Regions from separate parts of the Homo sapiens genome. Here regions 1, 3 and 4 are each linked to region 2. The links come from fine-mapping of genetic effects on gene expression. A gene starts in region 2. Each other region holds a variant in brackets. All regions are shown on one strand. Distances are from middle to middle.

Evidence for each region. PIP is the estimated chance that this variant, and not a neighbour inherited with it, causes the effect.
Region 1: its variant is the best candidate, but not a certain one, in a credible set for the expression of VLDLR in whole blood (TOPMed, PIP 0.81).
Region 3: its variant is the best candidate, but not a certain one, in a credible set for the expression of VLDLR in whole blood (INTERVAL, PIP 0.56).
Region 4: its variant is the best candidate, but not a certain one, in a credible set for the expression of VLDLR in thyroid (GTEx, PIP 0.56).

What each region holds. Positions count from the first base shown.
Region 1 is chr9:2,655,247-2,660,396 of GRCh38, forward strand. VLDLR (very low density lipoprotein receptor) reads left to right here. Exons shown (of 19, transcript NM_003383.5): 19 at 1-4,810. All of the region lies in intron 2 of LOC105375957 (a long non-coding RNA gene), which reads right to left. Among named protein-coding and RNA genes, the nearest start is that of VLDLR-AS1, 35 kb to the left of the region's middle. The variant C/A (reference allele first, on the strand shown) is at 2,273.
Region 2 is chr9:2,619,174-2,624,323 of GRCh38, forward strand. VLDLR (very low density lipoprotein receptor) reads left to right here and starts at 2,614. Exons shown (of 19, transcript NM_003383.5): 1 at 2,614-3,098. The coding sequence starts at 3,017. VLDLR-AS1 (VLDLR antisense RNA 1) reads right to left here and starts at 3,200. Exons shown (of 4, transcript NR_015375.2): 1 at 2,927-3,200. RefSeq lists an enhancer at 2,156-2,450 and silencers at 2,329-2,408, 3,019-3,288, 3,559-3,648, 3,659-3,748.
Region 3 is chr9:2,284,873-2,290,022 of GRCh38, forward strand. It overlaps LOC105375955 (a long non-coding RNA gene), which reads left to right and starts at 4,228. Exons shown (of 4, transcript XR_929426.3): 1 at 4,228-4,421. The variant C/T (reference allele first, on the strand shown) is at 2,819.
Region 4 is chr9:2,540,923-2,546,072 of GRCh38, forward strand. The region is part of intron 1 of VLDLR-AS1 (VLDLR antisense RNA 1); the gene reads right to left. Among named protein-coding and RNA genes, the nearest start is that of VLDLR, 78 kb to the right of the region's middle. The variant C/A (reference allele first, on the strand shown) is at 2,966.

The sequences.
Region 1 (5,150 bases), 36 kb after region 2:
CAGTATGAAGAGCAGATGAGGAGTTTGAGACAAAGAAAAAATTGTACAGGGAGTTTAGTGAATTTTCCATCAGGTTGGCCATTACTTTCTTTCTCTAAAGTCTCAGGATGTCTGGAAGCAAGGAAAGACAAAAGACTTGAAGCACCGGGTGCATGCTGTGTGTCACAAGTGAGGTGGAGAGTTGGCTGTGGAAGGTACAGCAATTCCTCTGGAATTAAATGACCGACCAACACAGTACCAAGAGGATGAAGAGAAGATGTTTTGCGTTGCTACGTGAATCAGTGGATGACTCATATTTCACTTGCATATGAAATATAAGGCAGTTAACATCTTGTTTGTGGCTTAAGCAAGGACATTAATCCTACTAGATGAAGGGGAAGTTGGTTCTGTTGTCTTAAGGGATGCCCCCTTGTGATTTTGGTCAACTGAATGAAAAAGAAAAGATAGCCTTGGACTTTTTTTTCATGGGAGGTTTGGAGGTCAAGCATGTAGAAGGAAAAGGCTGTAGTCATGAATATAGAACTGTCTGCTCTCCACCTTTTCCTCACTCTACATTTAGTCATCACACTGAACAGGATGTGGCCTGCTGACAGTGAGTAGCTGAAGTGCCTGTTTGGTAAGTAGGTTAGCATTCATCATGAACTCTGAAAGCCATTTCAGAGTTTGGCTGCTGCTCTGACCCTGCTGTGGTACAAAAAACATGGATTTTTTTTTTTTTAACTGGAGTAATACCAAATTCCCTTTAGAAGCTTGAAGTTTGATACTATTGCTTTCCCCATTATAAGGATTATACAGTATTAATTAATTATAAGGCCCAAAGTTTGTTTTGGCAAATAAAGTATTATTCTCTATCATCATCTTTTGAATTCCTGTCCCTAGTATGTTCTTTCATGTTCTGGGTAAAATTTCCAACCCTCAAAGAGTCTAAAACGTCTCATTTTTTTTTACCACGTCCTCCCCAGTAAGAAGCCAAGGTACAACTCATTGTACCTACGAGGTACAAACTCATTTGTAGAAACAAAGTAACTAGATATTCCTATTGAAATAAGAATAGATATATTGGTGGGCCAGGCATGGTGGCTCACGCCTATAATCCCAGCACTTTGGAAGGCCAAGGCAGGAGGATCACTTGAGGCCAGGAGTTCGAGACCAGCCTGAGCAACATGGTGAGACCCTGTCTCTACAAAAAAAAAATTTATAAAAATAAAAGAAAAAAATAGTTATATGACTAAACTACTAGTCAATACAGCTTGCAATAATAGTGCATGAATGATAACAGGCCTCGGCTTTATCACCCAAAAAATAACTTGAATTCTATGTGAAATGTGTTAGGATAAGTTTGCTCTGTCTCTAGAGTTCAATGTAGAAGATAATTAAGAGGTAAAATATGAAGCTTATCATACACTAAAGGAGAATATTTGGAGTTAGATGAGCCTGTCACACAAAGTGAAAGTGGACCCTCCAGAAATTTTAGGAATTGCCACAAAGATTGATGATAGATGAATAAACAGATTTGTGGCCTCTGGTAAAGAAATCCAGCCAAGTTCCTCTGTCCAAATTTTTAAGTGCCCTTTGCAAGCTAATCTATTTGGCAAAAAAATAGTCCCAGTTGTTCAACTAGCTCCCTTAAAACATTCTAGTAGGTGTTTTAAAGCCTAGGTATCGCTGCCTCTTTAGTTCTTGATGAATACAAGGCAAAAAAAAAAAAAAAAAAAAAAAAAAAATTGAGGCTTTCACTTTGGCATTTGCTTCTGTTCCTTGTATCTGTGGAAGTCAAGTAGCCCTTCTCAAAAATGAGAAGCCAAGCTTTAAATAGCAAACTACAGGGTATTAAAAGACTAACTCTTCAGTTAAGAACACTGTAGAAATGGTAGACCAACTTAAAGTCTACCTTTTAACAATCTTTACCCCAAACCTAAAGATTCTAGGGGTCACTTATCTCTATTACGTAATCTAACTGGAATAATTTCCTAGAATTCTTACTAGTGAAATCTTACCCAAGTAAAACAATTTATTATTTTGAATCCAAATGAAAGCTATACTGTTTGCTTTCAATGGTGGCAAAAACTTGCAAAAAGCAGATATACTTTTGCTAATTTAAGTTGAAGTACTATGAATACAACCTGCTAATCTTGATCCCCAAATCTGAGCCCTTCAGTTTCATAATTGTTTTATCCTGAACGTAGTTGTGACATAGACATTTCTCAAAAGGGTCTGATACATCAAACTCCTAACAAGTAGGAGCAGCAACTAGCTAAAGAGTAGAAAGAAG[C/A]TTCCCTTATTGTGGGTGATGAGGCGGTGCCTAAAAACCACATATATATAATCCCCTGGGTATTACATATTCTGCAAGCCCTGTTAGTGGGGAGATGGTAGTGGCAATAGCAGCGATAGTTGCGTCAGTGCTAACTGCTGCTGCTGCCCGTTCTGTTGGCGGCTGCTGGCCAAGTGTGCACACTTAGCCCTGGTTGAGGTGCATTGTCTGCTGTCGTCTGTTAAGCATCTAACCGGAGTGGGAGGGCACATCAAGCGATTTCACTCTCTTAAAGAAAAGGTTTTTAGGTATTTTTGGTATTATATAGTCTCTAAGGCCAGAAGGGGCTTATAATGACTTCTCTTCTAGAATTGTAATACTAAAAAACTACTCGAGTAAATATCCTAACAAGTATGATTTTTCTTGGGAAAACTAAAAATTGTACATCCATGCTTCAGCCATATCATGGGCCTAAACTATGAGAGTTCAGAAATATATAAAAGTACAAAAATCTTCAAAGGTACTTATTTCCAAATATGGAGGGAATGAATCTGAAGAGGGAACAATGGCGTTTTTCGAACTTATTTCTCTCTAATCCAGCCTGGAGGATTTTTAGCCGAAACAGTTGCATGTGAAGGATTATCAGCCATCTTTGCATATCCCTTTCACATCTACCTTCACACAGGAAAGCTGAATGCATTTTACCAGTGAGGCTCTAGATATGAAACTTAGGGATCCATAGATAAATAAGCTACTAACAAACTGATAACAGTGGTGTTCCATCTCTCTATCATGTCTCCTGAGTCCGTTTCACGTTTTTGAGCCTGGCTAATGAGAAAAAGAACAAAGTAGGACCATGACCCAGTGTTCTCCTGTAAATCTCACTGTAAAAATCTCAATGCAAAAACACTGAGACAGGAGTGAGACCAGCTGCGGGTGGGGAGTTTGTGCTCCGCAGGTTACCTCATGGCATATCAAAAATGGCTTTTTTCTTCACTGCGCTCAAGGAAAAAGTCAGATGGGTGACAAGGTGGTTCTGTTTAGAAGCAGCAGGCAATGTAGTTAACAGCATAGACTTCCGTGTCTTGTGTGTGGTACCTTGGGCAAGTTACTAACTCCCTCTGTAAAGTAGAGACGATGGGGACTGTCTCACTGTGACAAGGTAAGATTTAAGTGAGATGCACACAAAAAGCTCAGCACAGTGTCTGGCATCTAATATGTGCAGGGCAGATGTCACTACTGAATATCACATCAATGCTAGGGCTGTATTTACTGTCACACACAGGCACCGGTAAGTGACTTTACCGGTGAAAGTCACAGGTACCTTTATCTATGATGAATGTAATGTGTTAGATGGTGACCGAAGTGTTCTCCACTACACCTGTCTGAAGAGATCTAAGTCTGATATTTAAGGAGTGATAGCATCTTGCATACTTAAGAAGGCTTAAAAGACTGCATGGTTTAAACCCTAGAAACATAAATGGAATGTTTCTGCCTCAGTTCTTTTGACTACCTCCTAGGACATGGAAACAAATATTTGGGAGCCTGCATAGTCTTTAGATGGCTGCCAAAGCACTTAAAATCTCCTTTAAATTCTTACCATATGCTTACTTTTGTACTAAGTAAGTGCTCCCAAGTCTTTTACTTGCTCTTCACAGCAACCCTAATAGGTATCTCCATTTTACATAGGTAAAAACTGAGGCTACAAACAATCTATGGTTCCAAATCCTATGTGCTTACTGCCGTCTTCTCTTAGAAGGGGATGCAGTACTGTACAAAGATTGAGCTGGATGTCGCATTGCATGTTTGCTGAGTCCTCCTCATTGCTGATGTTAGGATCCTTCAACAGTTTCTCAGATGCCAGCTATGGCTGGCATCCAGTATGGTGGTGTAATGGAAGTGTACTACTAGCACTACTACATCAGGTCAGCACAGATTAACTCAGTTACGTGTTATACCTTCAAGACGCTAGACATTCCAGAATTATTTTCCTTGGCCATCCAAGTGAAGTAGAAGTAGATTGTTGGATTGCAAAGAAAATGATAAAGATTCCCTAAAGGAATTTATAAGCAGGCAACTTCATTCCTATGTATAAGATATTGGGAGAAAACAAACTGTACCACAACAAATCTTAAGTTTCAAGGCTCTCCTATAGGGAGAAACATGGCCAAAAAGACAGGAAGAACTGTGGCTTGTAACTCAATGATGCTATAACTCCAGCACTGGATCTTAAGTATTCTGGAATATACCAGATTGGTAGAACTACCAGACTTGGGTATTTCTCAGTTAACACACATGCAAGGAGGAAGAGAGTTTTTTTGAACAAAATGACTGGCTTTGACAAAACTATCTTGCTCTTTTTAAATGTCACTTGATACTAGAATGCGATTTAAAAGCATGTAATGCCTCAGGAGTCCGGCATATACAACCAAATTATCATGCTCAGGATCTTCAGAATTCTAAAGGCACATGTTAGAATGCAGAGTCCTGATGACCTGTCAATAAACTTTTTTTTACTAATGAACTGTACATTTAAATAAAAGTTTATTTTTGGGATAATTGTGAGCCTTTCCTTTCTCTAGAGACCTTTTATAAAAGCTTTTACTCAAATCTTTTTCCTTTTCTCAACTGAATCACTGAAGATGACTCAGTCACCCCTTTCTAGGAACAAGTAGGGCCACCCAGGTCTGGACACTTCAGGCTGAAAAACTGAGAGATGGTCCCTTTCTTGCCATATTTAGTACAGTTAGTGCCTCACCATGGACAGCCAGTATATTATCCTCTCAAATTTCCCCTCTCTACCCTTCCCATGAAAAAGACAGAAGTCAAAGCTACTGTTACTTAGTTAGGAATGTTAGCCTAGCACTTCCTTCTTGTAGGTGACTGAGAACAGGCCACA
Region 2 (5,150 bases):
CAATCTTCTAGCACTTTAAGCATCTCTTAATCAGAGTGCTATACATAGGGTACTACAGTTGCCCACTTGCCTGCCTCCCCTACCAGATGCTGAGCTTCCTAGATAAGCACTTCTGTATGCCCACTACTTTGCACAGTGCCCGTTAGCCAGGGATGCTCACTATGTGTTGCTTCAACAAATAAATGAATGTGGTGGATTGTAGGAGTGAATGGGATTGCCTCTGCATTTACCTGACGGCGTCGGGAATCCAGCAGTGTCAACTTCTCTGAACCCAGTTAGTTCAACCATTTCAGTCTCCACTTATGATCAATTAGCTCTGTTAGTTCAACCACTTCAATATCCACTTATCATCAATTTATCTTTTTAGTTATTAGCTACTTTCTATCATAATCCAATGAATTTCTCCATACAACCTTTTTCTTCTAATAAACAACACCTTGCAGAGAGCTGGTCCTTGAGGCCACGGAGCACTTTGATATAATGTGGCTTGGCTTTCTTTTCAGTTTACAGGCCAAAAGGCAGACACAGAGAGGCACAGTGATTTTTCCCAAGTTACACAGTCAATCAGAGATGGAGCCAAAAGTTATGCTTTCTTTTGAGTCAACAAAAAAGCTACAGGATTGAATACAGAGCTGCAGCTAAGTTCACTGAAAGTTTATTTATATCCCTTGGAGAATTAGAAAGTACTCACACACGTTTTTCAAAGTTAAGTCTTATTATACCATATCAATGTATAGCTTGTAGTATACCTGTATCTCTGAGTAAAGTATTAAAAACAAGTCATATGACTGTTTATTAATGCTGCCTCTTTTTGTATTGATTCCACCCATCCCTTCTACTCCTTTCCTCTTCTGTAAAGCAGTAGCTCATCAGATGGCATTTCAGAACCCTGAGAATATGAAAGACATCATGCACTAAGGTTTTCCTATCACATCTCAATGCCATTAGGTGAATAACACCGGCATGCATCTTCACTACTAAATGTCATACAAACAAATTTCAGTTGTTTCACATGCAACCTGTGTGGCTGCTGCAGTTTGTATCAACTATGTAACCACAGGGTGGGCAAAATAGCATTCAAAATGAGCTATAGTGCAAGATACCATCCATACGTAGAGTTAAGCCCTTTCATGCTTAGCAGTCACAATCAGGATATCTTTGGCCCACAGAAACCTATCCTGACTGGAATTTTCCTCTCCTGTGTGTCTCCTGGATATAGTAAGTTCCTAATAAACATCTCCTCTGATTGCTAGCCTTGACAAATTTCCAGGAGAACCAGGGCAAGGAGAAGACAGTGAGGCAGTGCCCGCTGCTCTTCAGATCACCAACAGAATAGAGTCAGAATATGATATTATTGAAACCTTCCAAGTTTGAATTAAGATAAAAACAACTTTTTCAAAATACCAAAAACCTTTTATTTAAGAAAGTGAAATCGCTCGATGTGCCCTCCCACTCTGGTTAGATGCTCAACAGACCACAGCAGACAATGCACCTCAACCAGGGCTAAGTGTGCAAGAAAACTGAAGTACACAAAAAGCAAATTATAGACTCAGGTACTGTCAGGCACAAAAGAAGAACCAACCCTTTCTAGGAGTCTTGTCTTTGCTTCCTTTATTCTTTCCTCGATTCTTGTAATTGAATGTTACAAAGTATATCAAGAGGAATAAACGTATGGGGCCCCTCTCTTCCAAACAAGAAAAGGTTAAGCTTTTAATTACAGGCCCTCAAACTATCATTTTGTGCAATTAGCAATTAACTATAATCGTTGATGAGCAAATGCAAAGCTGCGCTAGCAATTTCCCTTCTCCTCATCCCAGGCTGGGTTATTTCAGTCTTGTTCTATTACAGAGGACCAGCCACAACCGCGCGCACTCTCTTTCAAACATACACACTCTCTCACTTAAAGACACATTTAGTTTTCGGCAAAACGGCATCTCAGCGTGCGATTGAGACCGGCATCCCAAACCCCACTTTTGAGCAGCCCAAACGTTTGGAGCCCCTCCGCTTCATCACTTTCTGAGTGGATAGAGGAGGCCCGAAGAAGATGCTACCTACCAGCCTCTCTCAGGGGCGCAGGAGAGGGTGGTAGAGAGATGCTTGTTGCCCCTGGAAACTGCAAGTACCCCCCAGGTGCACGCCCCGTCAGTGGGGAGGCGGTGGCAACAGCAACGATAGTTGCATCAGCGCTAACTGCTGCTGCTGCTGCGTGTTCTGCCGGAGGCTGCCGGGAGGGTACAGTAATGACTGTAGGGAGCGCACAGCCGCTGCGGCGGCAGGTTCCCTGGATCAGGAAATTAGGACAGGCACCCGGGATTGGAGGCGAGGGCGGCGCGCGAGCCAACCAGCGGTCGCCCCGGGCCCCCGTGAGCCCCAGGCGAACGCGCGGAGCAGCCGGGCCCCTAGAGCGGTCCGGGTGGCGGCGGCGGCAGCCACGACCACGACCGCGGTCACTCACGCACGCTCACACTCGCACGCTCCCCGCGCGGGCACCCGGCTGCCCGGCGCGTGCAAGAGGAGCGCGTCGAGGGAAAGGAGGGCCGAAGCCGCCGCGCTCCCGCCCGCCCGCCGCGCCTCCCGTTGACCACGCCCCCTCCGGCCCCCTCCCCGCTGCTCACCCCGCTCTCCGGCCGCCGCCGGTGCGGGTGCTCCGCTACCGGCTCCTCTCCGTTCTGTGCTCTCTTCTGCTCTCGGCTCCCCACCCCCTCTCCCTTCCCTCCTCTCCCCTTGCCTCCCCTCCTCTGCAGCGCCTGCATTATTTTCTGCCCGCAGGCTCGGCTTGCACTGCTGCTGCAGCCCGGGGAGGTGGCTGGGTGGGTGGGGAGGAGACTGTGCAAGTTGTAGGGGAGGGGGTGCCCTCTTCTTCCCCGCTCCCTTCCCCCGCCAACTCCTTCCCCTCCTTCTCCCCCTTTCCCCTCCCCGCCCCCACCTTCTTCCTCCTTTCGGAAGGACTGGTAACTTGTCGTGCGGAGCGAACGGCGGCGGCGGCGGCGGCGGCGGCACCATCCAGGCGGGCACCATGGGCACGTCCGCGCTCTGGGCGCTCTGGCTGCTGCTCGCGCTGTGCTGGGCGCCCCGGGAGAGCGGCGCCACCGGAACCGGTGAGTGAGGACGCGCCCCTCCGCCGGCGGGCGGGACCCAGCCGGGGCACCGGGAGACCCCGAGGCGTAGGTCTCCGTTTGCCCACCCGCCTCCTAGGAGGCGCCTCTCGGTTCTCCTCGCCTTCCCTCCCTCCCCTCCGTGGTGGCGCCTCTGAGCTGTCAGCGCCGAGGCTAAAGGGAGCCGGGCTTGGGGAACAGCGGGGTTCGGGGTGCCCCGACGCCTCGCCTGAACTAGTCTTCTGCCCCTCACTCCGCCTCCCCCAGAGCCGCTGCTTCGCCTCGTTTCTCGCCCTCTTGACGGGCGCCGAGGTGCGTGGGCTTCTGAGCATTGAACAATGGTTCTGCCTCCTCTGCCAGGCGCAGTGTTGGGAAGGAGGCAGAGGGCCAAGACGTGTGCGGCAGCCTCGGGCGCACCCTCGAACCCCGGGGAGTGCGGGAGCGGACGGGGGGAGAAGGTGAGCGCCTCCGGGGACGCGGAGCGCCAGGGGCCGGCCGGGCTTCAGAGTCTTCCGGCGGCCGCGAGCTGGCGCACGTTCGGTGGGCGGCGGCCGGGAGGCTCCGCGGAGCCGAGGGCACCCGGACTGCGACTCCCCCGGCGCGGGGCCGCCTCTCCGGCGTGCGGGGTAGGGGAGCGGCGGGGCTTTACGCAGGACTCTGCTCTGGGCGCTTCTCCTCTCCCTTTTCCCCGCCTCGGGCGGCGTTTGGAAACCGCTCGGGTCTCCCGTGTAGCTGAACGCGGAGGGGGAGTGGAGGGGAGACTTAATCAGGTTAGTTTGCTGACCCTCCTTCCCGGTGACGTTTCCTCGAGAGGAATTGAGTCCTAGGCTAGTGACTGTAATTAGCCTTCATTCTACACAATAGCTCAAAGGAGCAGCGCGAGAGCGAGCGTGTGGCCCTGTCTTGTTGGGAAGGGCGGCGGTGACTACTGTCGGGTCCCCAGACTCTGCCGCGGGGGCCTGGGGGCCCCGCCTGGTCGTCAGCCACGTTCCCACTTGGGGCCTCGTAACTTTCCTGGACAGGCGACAGGAAGCCTTTCTGAGAGGACTCAGTCGGAATCCTAGCGCGTCCCCGAAGTGATCTTCAGATGTGACGCCGAGGGGCTTGCTTGCCAGCTGCAGGGAATTGGGACTGAAAGCCGCCCAGGCCCTTAACACCCGTTCCAGAGTCCCTGGCTCCCGTCGCCGGGTGGCTTCAGGGGCCCTGCCGGCCTGCAGTCACGTGCTCCTGAAGTGAGAGCGAACTTTAAAGCATGTGGTCAAGGAGCCTGTCGGGCAGCGCCTGGGGTTTTTACGTCTCCGAATGCCCCTGCCCTTTGGTTGCCACTGTCCGGAGCGTGTGAACTGGGACTGGCCTTTCCGCCCTCTGCGATTGGTTAGCGGTGCGATCACGTTTAGGTTGGTCACATGGTTCCGCGGACTCTTAAGTGGGCAGCATGGGCAGTGTTATTTTCAATGGAAAGTAGGAGACTCCACAGGCTCTTACGGGCTGTTCTCTCAAATGCCTTCCCCTGCCTGGACTCTTTGAAGAGGACGAATGTGTAGTGAACATGGAATCTGATGTGTAACAAGCCTGAGAGCCTAGAAAAGCTCTGCTTACAAGAGTTTCCAAACGCTAGCATTAATCATTAATAGATGAGTAATACTAACTTATTAAACGATTTCTCAGTATAGTGCCATGACTTGCATTATGCCTTTTGTAACATTTCAAAACGCTAAGGTATACCAGAAGGAGGGACAATTATCCAGGAAGGTGAGAGAAAAGTTTCGTTTTTGCTGCATGTCCCTTCCACTAGAGGTTAACTTTACCTTATAGAATGCTAGGAATGCACCTAAACTACTGACATGAGTTAGTCAAAGCCAGATGTTCACCTTGTATTGGGCAGGTGAGGATCCTTTTCACTTTGTCACATGTGAAATATTTGACATGCCATGAACAATGGAAAAACAAATTCTTCAAAGGAGAGGAAGCAGATTCTTCCAGAACTGGAGGAAATTTGGGCTGAGGCAGTTATTGACCCTAAACCAATCCCAACCGGCATCTGTCTTAAGTTCA
Region 3 (5,150 bases), 330 kb before region 2:
GACCCTACAAGATCTGGCTCTGGACCACTTCTTGATGTTACCCCTAGCCTCTCAAACCTGTCCACCCCTGCTTTCTGCTCCTTAAGCATGTTGAGCACCTCAGGGCCTTTGCACATACTGTTCCCTGCCCTGGACCATGCTTATCTCTAGATAACCATATGGCATGCTGCCCCTTTCCATCCTATGTCTGTTCAGATGTCACCTCTGCTGAGAGGCTATTTTGACCAGCCTTTCTAAAGTAACTCCATCCTATAGTTTCTTGATCTTTACAACACTTAATCACTACCTGACAATATTAATATATATTTCTTTTCAGTTTTTTGTCTGTCCTTCTATAAAGGAAAATCCATGAAGTCAGGGCCTGATATGTTTGGTCAATGATATGTAACACCCCTAAAATAGGTGTTACAGGGCCTGACACACAATGGAAATTCAGTAGTAAGTGGTGAATTAATAAACTAATTCATTCAAATAAATTTTCTGATGAATTTACTGAAATGGAAGAGGTTAATTTTAGGCAGAATTGAAGAAGGTGAATAATGAGCTTCAGATAACCAGATAATTTTAATTAGTATATCACAACCTCACCAACCAGTCTTTTGAAGGAACTGTTACTGTGATAATTTGCATCAACTTGTAATGAATATTGACTAAGTTAGTTTACCTGTAGTGAATCATCTGCATTTTCCATTTGGGATAGTTTCATGTTTCAACAGGTTTTATGCCTCTGTCACGTTAACCAGGTCCAAGAGGGAGAAATAGCTGTGACGAGCTGGCAGGTGTTAAGTATAGACCACAGCTAATTCCTCTTAAAGGCTTAATTTACATTCCAAATAGAATGCATCTGTTTTTCAGATTCTAATTATTTTAATGTTGTTTTTGCAAAGGGTGATTTCCATAACTTGAATATTTGAAAAATTCAAATTGTAACTATGTAGAACTGAACCAATATAGAATGAAAGGAAACCCAATGCGTTCGTTTGTGAGGCATTGCCCTCAGGAGATATATATAGCTAGAATTTGCACTGCCCTTATTTTAAAAATGTCCAGAACCTCTAGGCTCCTACTGTTTCCCTGGCTCACTCATAAAAAGCTGCCTAGCAGTCTACTTTTTGCCCTTGTAGTAATGCCTAATTTTCTTTGAACTAAATGCTTTATGCTTATCTCTTTTAATTGTAACCACCTGAAGTAGAAGAGGGTTTTTTTTTTTGTTTTTTGTTTTTTTTTTTTGTTTTTTTTTTGAGATGGAGTCTCACTCTGTCATCCAGGCTGAAGTGCAGTGGTGCGATCACAGCTCACTGCAACATCCGCCTCCCAGGTTCAAGCCTGGGAGTAGCTGGGATTACAGGCATGCGCCACCACGCCTAGCTATCTTTTTTTGTATTTTTAGTAGAGACAGGGTTTCACCATGTTGCCCAGGGTGGTCTCGAACTCCTGAGCTCAGGCAATATACCCGCCTTGGCCCCCCAAAGTGCTAGGATTACAGGCGTGAACCACCTCACCTGGCCTAGAAGATAGTATTGATCCCATTTTATAGAAGAGGAAACTGAAGTGCACAGATCAAAGCCACACAGTGAATGAACAGGAAAGTGGGACTCTAAGGCCCCTCCCTAATGTGCACTGTGTACTACATCCAATCAAGAGCCTTCTGTATGACAGACACACCTGACAGCAATAACATAACTTAGGCACACTCTGAGAATGACCCTATGGTCTAAGAAGAATGTGTGTTTGTAGCTGTAAGCTAAGGAATCCAGAAGTAGCCAACATGGAGATTCATTCCTTATCCCTTGGCCCATCCTGTGGAGCACAGGCTGTACAGAGGATCAAGGCTCTTTGTTTTGGGTTAAGTGAAGGTTAATGGGTAGAGGTTCCTAGGAGGAGGGTGTTAAGTGAAAACACTATATAAACTGCATGCTTTATACAAGTTGTTACAGTTCTCCTGTCTAGTCCACCACCACTGGACGGGACTGCCCTGTATGTAAGTTCCCTCAATAAACCCTATGTCTTGTTCACTGGTGCCAGGTCTTTAGCCTCTCAAACACGATGCCATTCCTATTGAATGAAGTCAACAGGGGTCCAGCATGATACCTGCCAGTCTTGAATTCTTTTTACACCATTTTGCAGCCATCCCCCTCCCCCATTCCATCCTTGAGTTCTAACTCCAAGGACACACAGTAGCTGCTCAATGAGCTTTGGTTGTGTTGTCAGTTAATCATTAACAAAATGACCCTCCAGCTCCCTTTTAGAGTATCACCAAAAAGTGTTTTATGAATACACCATTTGCAAACGTTATCATGAATCTGGGCTGGATTCAGAGCCTAAAGGAGGGTAGAGTGCCCGCCTGGCTACCTGCAGGGCACTCACCTGAGCTCTTCAGGAATGATTTCACATGTTTTTGCCAATTCTAGAGCCATTGAAGTCCACAGCAGGTTTTTTTTTATCCCAGCAGTCCCTAGCCTACCTGATATTCTGACAAGCAATTTGATTTATCTCTTGGCTTTTATGTGGCTCTATCTGGAGTAAAAGTGGCAAGGTATTTGAAAGTAAGTTAGAGTGTACGGTTGCTTTTCTTGAGCATGGGAGAACCACTGGAACTGATTTTTTAATTAAAAAATTAAAAAAGGCTGGCCAAGGAGGTAAAGGGCTCAAACAGCCTGGCTTTGGGAAACTTGATTCCTGCTTTCAGCTTGATGGAGTCTCTCCTGAGCATTTCAGACTGTACAGCTGTCCACAGTTTGGAGGTAAAAAATGCCATCACCCTCTTAACCAAGCTTCTCTTTGTCAGAAATTCGGTTTCCAGTCCTCAATGACTTTG[C/T]ATTTCTGTCTCCACAGCCTTTTTGATATTTCATTAACACACATGAAAATCCTTCTGAATGATGTTCCTGTGCTTTGTAAAAACGCATCTAGCATCCCACAGGTGATATAGACAGGAGACAGGGAGATACTGAGTAGAAGAGGGTGGTTTCCTGGCAAGAACCCCACCCTCAAGCCTGAAGAACCTTGGCCCTAAATGAGGACAGGCATTCCTGTTTTTGCACTCAAGAAGTTGCCTTTCGGCCTGCTACGTTCCCTATCCTGCACCCATATAAACCTCAAACCCCAGGCTCCAGGAGCAGACCAGCAGATGAAGAGAAGCAGAGGGACGGCAGAAGGACACAGCAGGGAGACAGGAAGAGGAACGTTCAGCTGGGGGTGGTTGGAAAGGAGTTTGGCAGCTGGACAGCCCAACTCCAGGGGAAGATCATCTTCCCACTCCATCCCCCACTTCCGCTTTCCCATCCATCCCGCCAAGAGCCACCTCCACCACTCGACGAAACCCTGCGTTGATCCTTCAAGCCCGTGTGTGACCCGATACTCCCGGGATGCTGGATAAGAACTCGGGATACAGAAAGATTTCACACTGGCCCTCTGACCTTGCAAAAAGGCAGAGGGTCCATAGAGCTGGTTAACACTTAAAGCCATCTGTGGACAGCAAGGCTAAGACAGCATTGTAGCACTGGGATTGCAGGCGCCCACCTCGAGACCCTACCATGGGGCTGGAGCCCAAAGTGCTCGCCCCAGCTCTGCATCTGCCCTTCTGCGTGCTCCCTTTCCCGCAAGGGGTTTGAGAAGCAGCAGGACGGTGACCTGTCAGTCACTCCACACCCCTGTCACAAGTACTGAGAGGGGGAACCGGGAACTCTCCCATTTCACAGGGACTCTAACTTACTTCCTCATCACTAAGTTTAGAGTTGCTCCACACTTGCTTTTTTCTTCTGTGGGTATAGGGGAGTTGGAGTTGCTAAAATGTGCTGCAACCCATGTTTTCCCTTTAGCCTGGAGTACTCTTGCTTGGTCCCTTCCCTCATCCTACTCTCACCCTACAGTCACACTCCCAAAAGTTTGCCCGGATATGGCTTACTTACTGTACCCATTCTTCATGTTACCTCCTCAAAGCCTTCTTTGAAACTTTCCACCTTCAAGATCAGGTATCCTGTAGTACTGATATATATGTAGTTGGTGCTAAATAAATGTGATTGGGTGGATTAACGAATACATGGACAGTTGGATGGAGACCAAGCAAGGTGGTGTAATCCCATTCTGTGAAAATTTTAAAAAATAAGAAATTGAACTCACAAAGGGACAACAAATATTTTGGTTTCCAGGGAAGATAAAAGAACATTCTATATGTATTGTGATTACTTTTTTCCAGGGACTCTTTAATTCCTAACTTCCTAGCAAGGAGTGACCAAGACAGCTTTTTGAGCTATCATCTGGCTCTATGACTGTGGTGTGAGGAGGGTTTGCACTTGGTGCCAACACAGAGAAATCACCCTGTTTAGAGTAGAGGGGATGAAGGACGGGGGGAGAAATCACATCCCCTGAACTCTCAGCTATGGAAAGGCCTGGCTCTTGGCACAGTTACCGGGTATTACCAGGTACCAATGTCTGTCTTGGATGACTCCAATACTCTCTCCCTCTACTCTTCCCTTGTCCCTCACTCCCTGACCCTCGCCTCTCTGGGCATCAGCAGAGGGAAGCAGGGGCCTCTGCCATCCCATCAGCCTGTACCTTCCTGCCAGACAGCCTTGGAGATGATTGTCACTGCAGTGGCATCTGGGGAACCCTGCTTTCCTCTGTCTTGGCTCATAATTTTTCAGAGCCGGAGGAGCAGCCACTCTAAGCAGCTCTGCACTGCTGTGCTTGGATGCTCACAGTTCAGACACGTCATCTCCCTCCTCAGCAGAGAACAAGCTCACATAGCTGCTGCACAAATTTATGGCTCAGCCTGAACATCCATTAGCTATGCTTCCCTTTTATTTTTTAAAAATGTTAATTATACAAATAATACATGAACACATTTTAGTTGTAAAATTTAAAATCTAAGCATAAAAGTAAAGCTAAAGTCTACTTTGACCATACGCTTTCTAGACCATACCCCTTTCTAGAGGTAACTGTTGTTACCTTCTTTTGTGCATTTAGGCTCTTATACAGAAATACAGAAAAAATGGTTTTCATATTTAAAAAATTTAAAAATCATGTTATATATAGTGTTCAGTAAATTGTTTTCTTATTTCACTAATATTTCTTTTCCTATTAATATATACAGATTAACCTCATTCTTCCTAACTGTTGCATACGGAATGGCTATGGATATAGTAGCATTT
Region 4 (5,150 bases), 78 kb before region 2:
AAAAGTAATTTTACAAAAACTTCTATAGAAATAACATTGTTCAATTAAGTTTATAGAGTATGCCCAAAAGAAAAATATAAGAATATTCACATGAAGAAATATTAATCTAGTGCTCCAAAGACCAGAATATGTACTCCAGGGGCGTCAGGGGCAGGAACCATGAAACAGAGATAAAAGTTGCTTTTTGAGATTTTTCTCGCCTTAGCCCTGAATGCTGCATGCTCTGAAAGAATCCAGTTATGGGAACACAAATTACCTCATCCTCAGTTTCACTTTAAAATAAAATAAATAGGTTACATTTTCTTTTTTTCTTTCTTTTTTTTTTTCTTTTTATGAGATAGAATTTTGCTCTTGTCACCCAGGCTGGAGTGCAATGATGCGATCTCAGCTCACTGCAACCTCTGCCTCCCGGGTTCAAGCAATTCTCCTGCCTCAGCCTCCTGAGTAGCTGGGACTACAGGCACCTGCCACCAGGCCTGGCTGATTTTTGTATTTTTTTTTAGTAGAGGCAGGGTTTCCCCACATTGGCCAGGCTGGTGTGGAACTCCTGACCTCAGGTGACCCGCCCGCCTCGGCTTCCCAAAGTGCTGGGATTACAGGCATGAGCCACCTTGCCTTGCCACAGGTTAGATTTTCAAGTGTTATTAAGTTGCTTACACAAATTTAAAGTCATGAGCATGACTTTAGGATCTGTGCTTTTTATGTCAAGTGCTCCTCTTTCTCGGAATTTTAACAATAAAGTTTTTTTCAGAGTGCTGTGCAGTATCTCATTTCATGAAAATAACTCATGGCATAATTTGATGTTTTCTCGATCTTAGATTTCTCTTTGCAGCCAGGCTATTCTTTCTAAAATAAAACTGATATTCTCTAGAAAGGTTTGCCTGACGCAATTGGCATTTCTACTGAGCTATGTTCTGGGAATATTTGTCAGAAAATCTGGTCATTGAAAGCAGAATTGTCTGTGTCCTTCATTCCCAGGCAAATAACCTGTGTTTTCTCTCTTCCTCCTTCCTTCCTTCTCATTCCCTGAGGGCATCCACCCTTCTCTCCAGCAATCCATGTGTCATCACCTCCTCAAACTGCCTTTCCTCCCATGCTCTCAGAGGGCTTCTGCACTAATCCTTCTACCCTTGGAATCTCCTTTTCTTTTCTTCCTCTTGACATGGAATGTTAATACAGAAATTCTTGCAAAAATATGGCTACCTTTATAGTCTAGATAAAAGAAAAATCTTCCTCCAGCAGGGTAACTTGTGTTTTCTTTTTTTAAAATTTTTCTGGGGGGTTGTTTTTTTAAGTTCCAGGATACATGTGCAGGGTGTGCAGGTTTGTTACATAGGTAAACATGTGCCATGTGGTTTGCTGCATCCATCAACCTATCACCTAGGCATTAAACCCAGCATGCAGTAGCTATTTTTCCTGATGTTCTCCCTCCTGCTGCCATACACAATAGGCCCTGGTGTGTGTTGTTCCCCTCCCTGTCTCCATGTGTTCTCATCATTCAGCTCTCACTTATAAGTAAGAAAATGTGGTATTTGGTTTTCTGTTCCTGAGTTAGTTTGCTGAGGATGATGGTTCCCAGTTCCATCCATGTCCCTGCAAAGGACATGATCTCATTCCTTTTTATGGCTGCATAGTATTCCATGGTGCATATGTACCATGTTTTCTTTATCCAGTCTATCATTGATGGGCATTTGGGTTGGTTAATGGGATCTAATTAAATGGGATCATTGATGGGCAATTGGGTTGATTCCATGTCTTTGCTACTGTGAATAGTGCTGCAGTGAACATAGTGTGCATGTATCTTCATAACAGAATGATTTATGTTCCTTTGCGCATATACCCAGTAATGGGATTGCTGGGTCAATGATATTTCTGGTTCTAGATCTTTGAGGAATTGCCACACTGTCTTCTAAATTTACATTCCCATCAATAGTGTAAAAGCAATCCTATTTCCCTGCAACCTCGCCAGCATCTGTTGTTTCTTGACTTAATAATCGTCATTCTGACTGGCATGAGATGGCATCCCATTGTGGTTTTGATTTGCATTTCTCTAATGATCAGTGTTGTTGAGCTTTTTTCATATGTTTGTTGGTGGCAGAAATGTCTTCTTTTGAGAAGTGTCTGTTCATGCTCTTTGCCCACTTTTTAGTGGGGTTGTTTTTTTTCTGGTAAATTTGTTTAAGTTTCTTGTAGACCCTGGATATTAGCTCTTTGTCAGATGGATAGACTGCAAAAATTTTCTCCCATTCTGTAGGATGTCTGTTCACTCTGATGCTCGTTTCTTTTGCTGTGCAGAAGCTGTTTAGTTTAATTAGATCCCATTTGTCAAATACTTGCTTTTGGTGCAATTGCTTTTGGCGTTTTTGTCATAAAATCTTTGCCAGTGCCTATGTCCTGAGTGGTATTGCCTTGGTTTTCTTCTAGGATTTTTGTAGTTTTGAGTTCTACATTTAAGTCTTTAATCCATCTTGAATTAATTTTTGTATAAGGTGTAAGGAAGGGGTCCAGTTTCAATTTTCTGCAGATGGCTAGCCAGTTCTCCCAGCACCATTTGTTAAATAGGGAATCGTTTCTCCATTGCTTGTTTTTGTCAGGTTTGTCAAAAATCAGATACTCGTAGATGTGCAGTCTTACTTCTGAGATCTCTATCTTGTTCCATTGGTGTATGTGTCTGTTTTTGTACCAGTACCATGCTGTTTTGGTTGCTGTAACCTGTAGCATAGTTTGGAGTTGGGTAGCGTAATGCCAGCTTTGTTCTGTTTGCTTAAGATTGTCTTGGCTATACAGGCTCTTTTTTGGTTCTGTATAAATTTTAAAATAGTTTTTTTCTAATTCTGTGAAGAATGTCAATGATGGTTTAATGGGAATAGCATTGATTCTGTAAATTACTTTGGACAGTATTTTCTACTTAAGTGCACATACCTTCAAAGGGACATATATAGAAGAAAAGGAAAAGGGACCTATC[C/A]TAGCCAGCATATCACAGGGCTCATGAGCAGCTTCTTCCTTTGAATGGTCCCTGGGCTCTCCTCCATTCCCATCACTCTGGCCCATCCCACACTCACTACTAGAATTGCAGACCTCAGAACATGTCTTGATGACATCTTTCATCTCTGAAGCTCTGGAAATTGCTAGTAATTGGAATTCTCTTTCCCTTCATAGCCTCCAAGTCCTTCTCAAAGGTCATAGGGACTTAGTAAATGTTAGGGTTTAAAACTACTATTTTAGGGACACCTCATCCATTCAACAGGCCTTTATGGACTGACCTAGAAGTACTACTAACACTAATTATATTTTATTTACTGATAACCTTAAACCCTTATTTGTTAAAGGAATTTTAGCATTATTAATAGGACTGTTGATGACAAGCCTAGCACCTAAGAAAAACTATGAGTTAGAACCAACTGAATTATACACCTAATCTCTGATAAAGAGTATATAAGTTGAAGGCTCCTCCTTGTGTGTTTGCTTGCTTTTCACATTTTTTACCTTTCTGCATATTTATTTATTCAACAAATATTTGATAATCCCCTGCTACACATTCTATTAGGTGCTATGACTAAAACAATAGGCTAAAGCAGAGAGCTCCTGCCCTTGTGGAGCTTACAGTCTAGTAGAATAGACAGACAACCAAATACTGCGGGAGTGGGGAGAAAAGCTGCTACAAAAACAAATGATTAAAAGGATGGGTACACAGTGCTATACTAAGAATAATCAGTCTAGTCAGAGAGGCCAAGGAAAGCTGAGTAAAGGTGGCAGAAAAGAATGTTCCAGGAGGAATAACATGCGCAAAAGCCCCATAGCAAAGGCAGCTTGGCAAGGCAAGGGCCTGAGGAGAAGTTGATGTTGGCTGGGTGCGGTGGCTCACACACATCATCTCAGCATTTCGGGAGGCTGAGGTGAGCGGATTGCTTTAGCCCAAGAGTTCAAGGCTAGCCTGGGCAACACAGTGAGACTCCATCTTTACCAAAAAAGAAAAAAAAAATTACCCAAGCATGGTGGCACATGCCTGTGGCACATGCCAGCTACTGAGGAAGCTGAGGAGGGAAAATTGCTTGATTCTGGGGAGTCGAGGCTGCAGTGAGCCATGATCACACCACTGCACTCCAGCCTGAGCAACAGAGAGACCCTGTCTAACAAGAAAAAAAGAAGCTGATAATCAGGAACATATATAAGCAGTGGAGTGGGGTGCATGATGAGGTTGCACAGGCTGAACTTTATGGGGCTTTATGAGGAAGAGTGAAGGAAGCCACTAAAATTACCTGAAAAACTTTTGACAGGATCAGTTAGGAACTTTAGATCAGCTCTATAGTCACAGCATAGAGAACCATTGGTGGCAAGAGCAGCTGTCCACCATCTACGTCTTGAAGGCCATTGCTGGAGTTCTCATGAGAAATAAAGGTCACTTAGACTAGAGTGGATGGAAACAGACTCAAGATAATGGTAGATGGGGAAACTCACAGGATCTGGTGGTGGGTTGGATAAGAGGGCTGAAGCTCAAGAAGCATGGTCAAATGATGCTTAGGTTTCTGATGGATCCTAGTTTAACTATTTGGTGCTTTGCTCCGTCGTTGGCTGTTGCCTATGGTTTTTAAGCATGAAATATTTTTTTCTTCATGCTCCTACTCCATCTTGAAGGGAAAATTCTCTATTGCTTCAAACCTAACAATGCAGAGAGTCCCTCAGCATTATTCCACCAAATTCCCCAAATAAGATTCCCAAACAATTTGTTTCTAATATTTTAAGTAAGTTTGATCTCTCCCCCGTATATATTATTTCTGTCTAGTATAATATCCTTCATTGAAATGGGAAATCAGAAAGTGTGATATAGTGGTGAAAGATTTTTTGCTACAAGTCATTGAAATCAACTTGAACTAACTTTGACACTAAAGAGAATTTATTACAAGAATATGAGAGTGTCTCATGCAATCAAATGCAGAAATGCAAGCAAAACATAGGAGTAGGAGGGAATCCCTCAGATTCTCTCTCCATATTATCTGTTCTTCTCTGTATGGTGGCTTCAGTCTCATCTTGGAAGGCTGGTTTTCTCCGCACTTAAATCCACAAGATTGCCCCATAATAGCTCCTGTGTTTATATGCTCTGGTTTTAACCACAAGGACTGACCTTGTGGTTTGTTTGTCCTCAGTGTCTC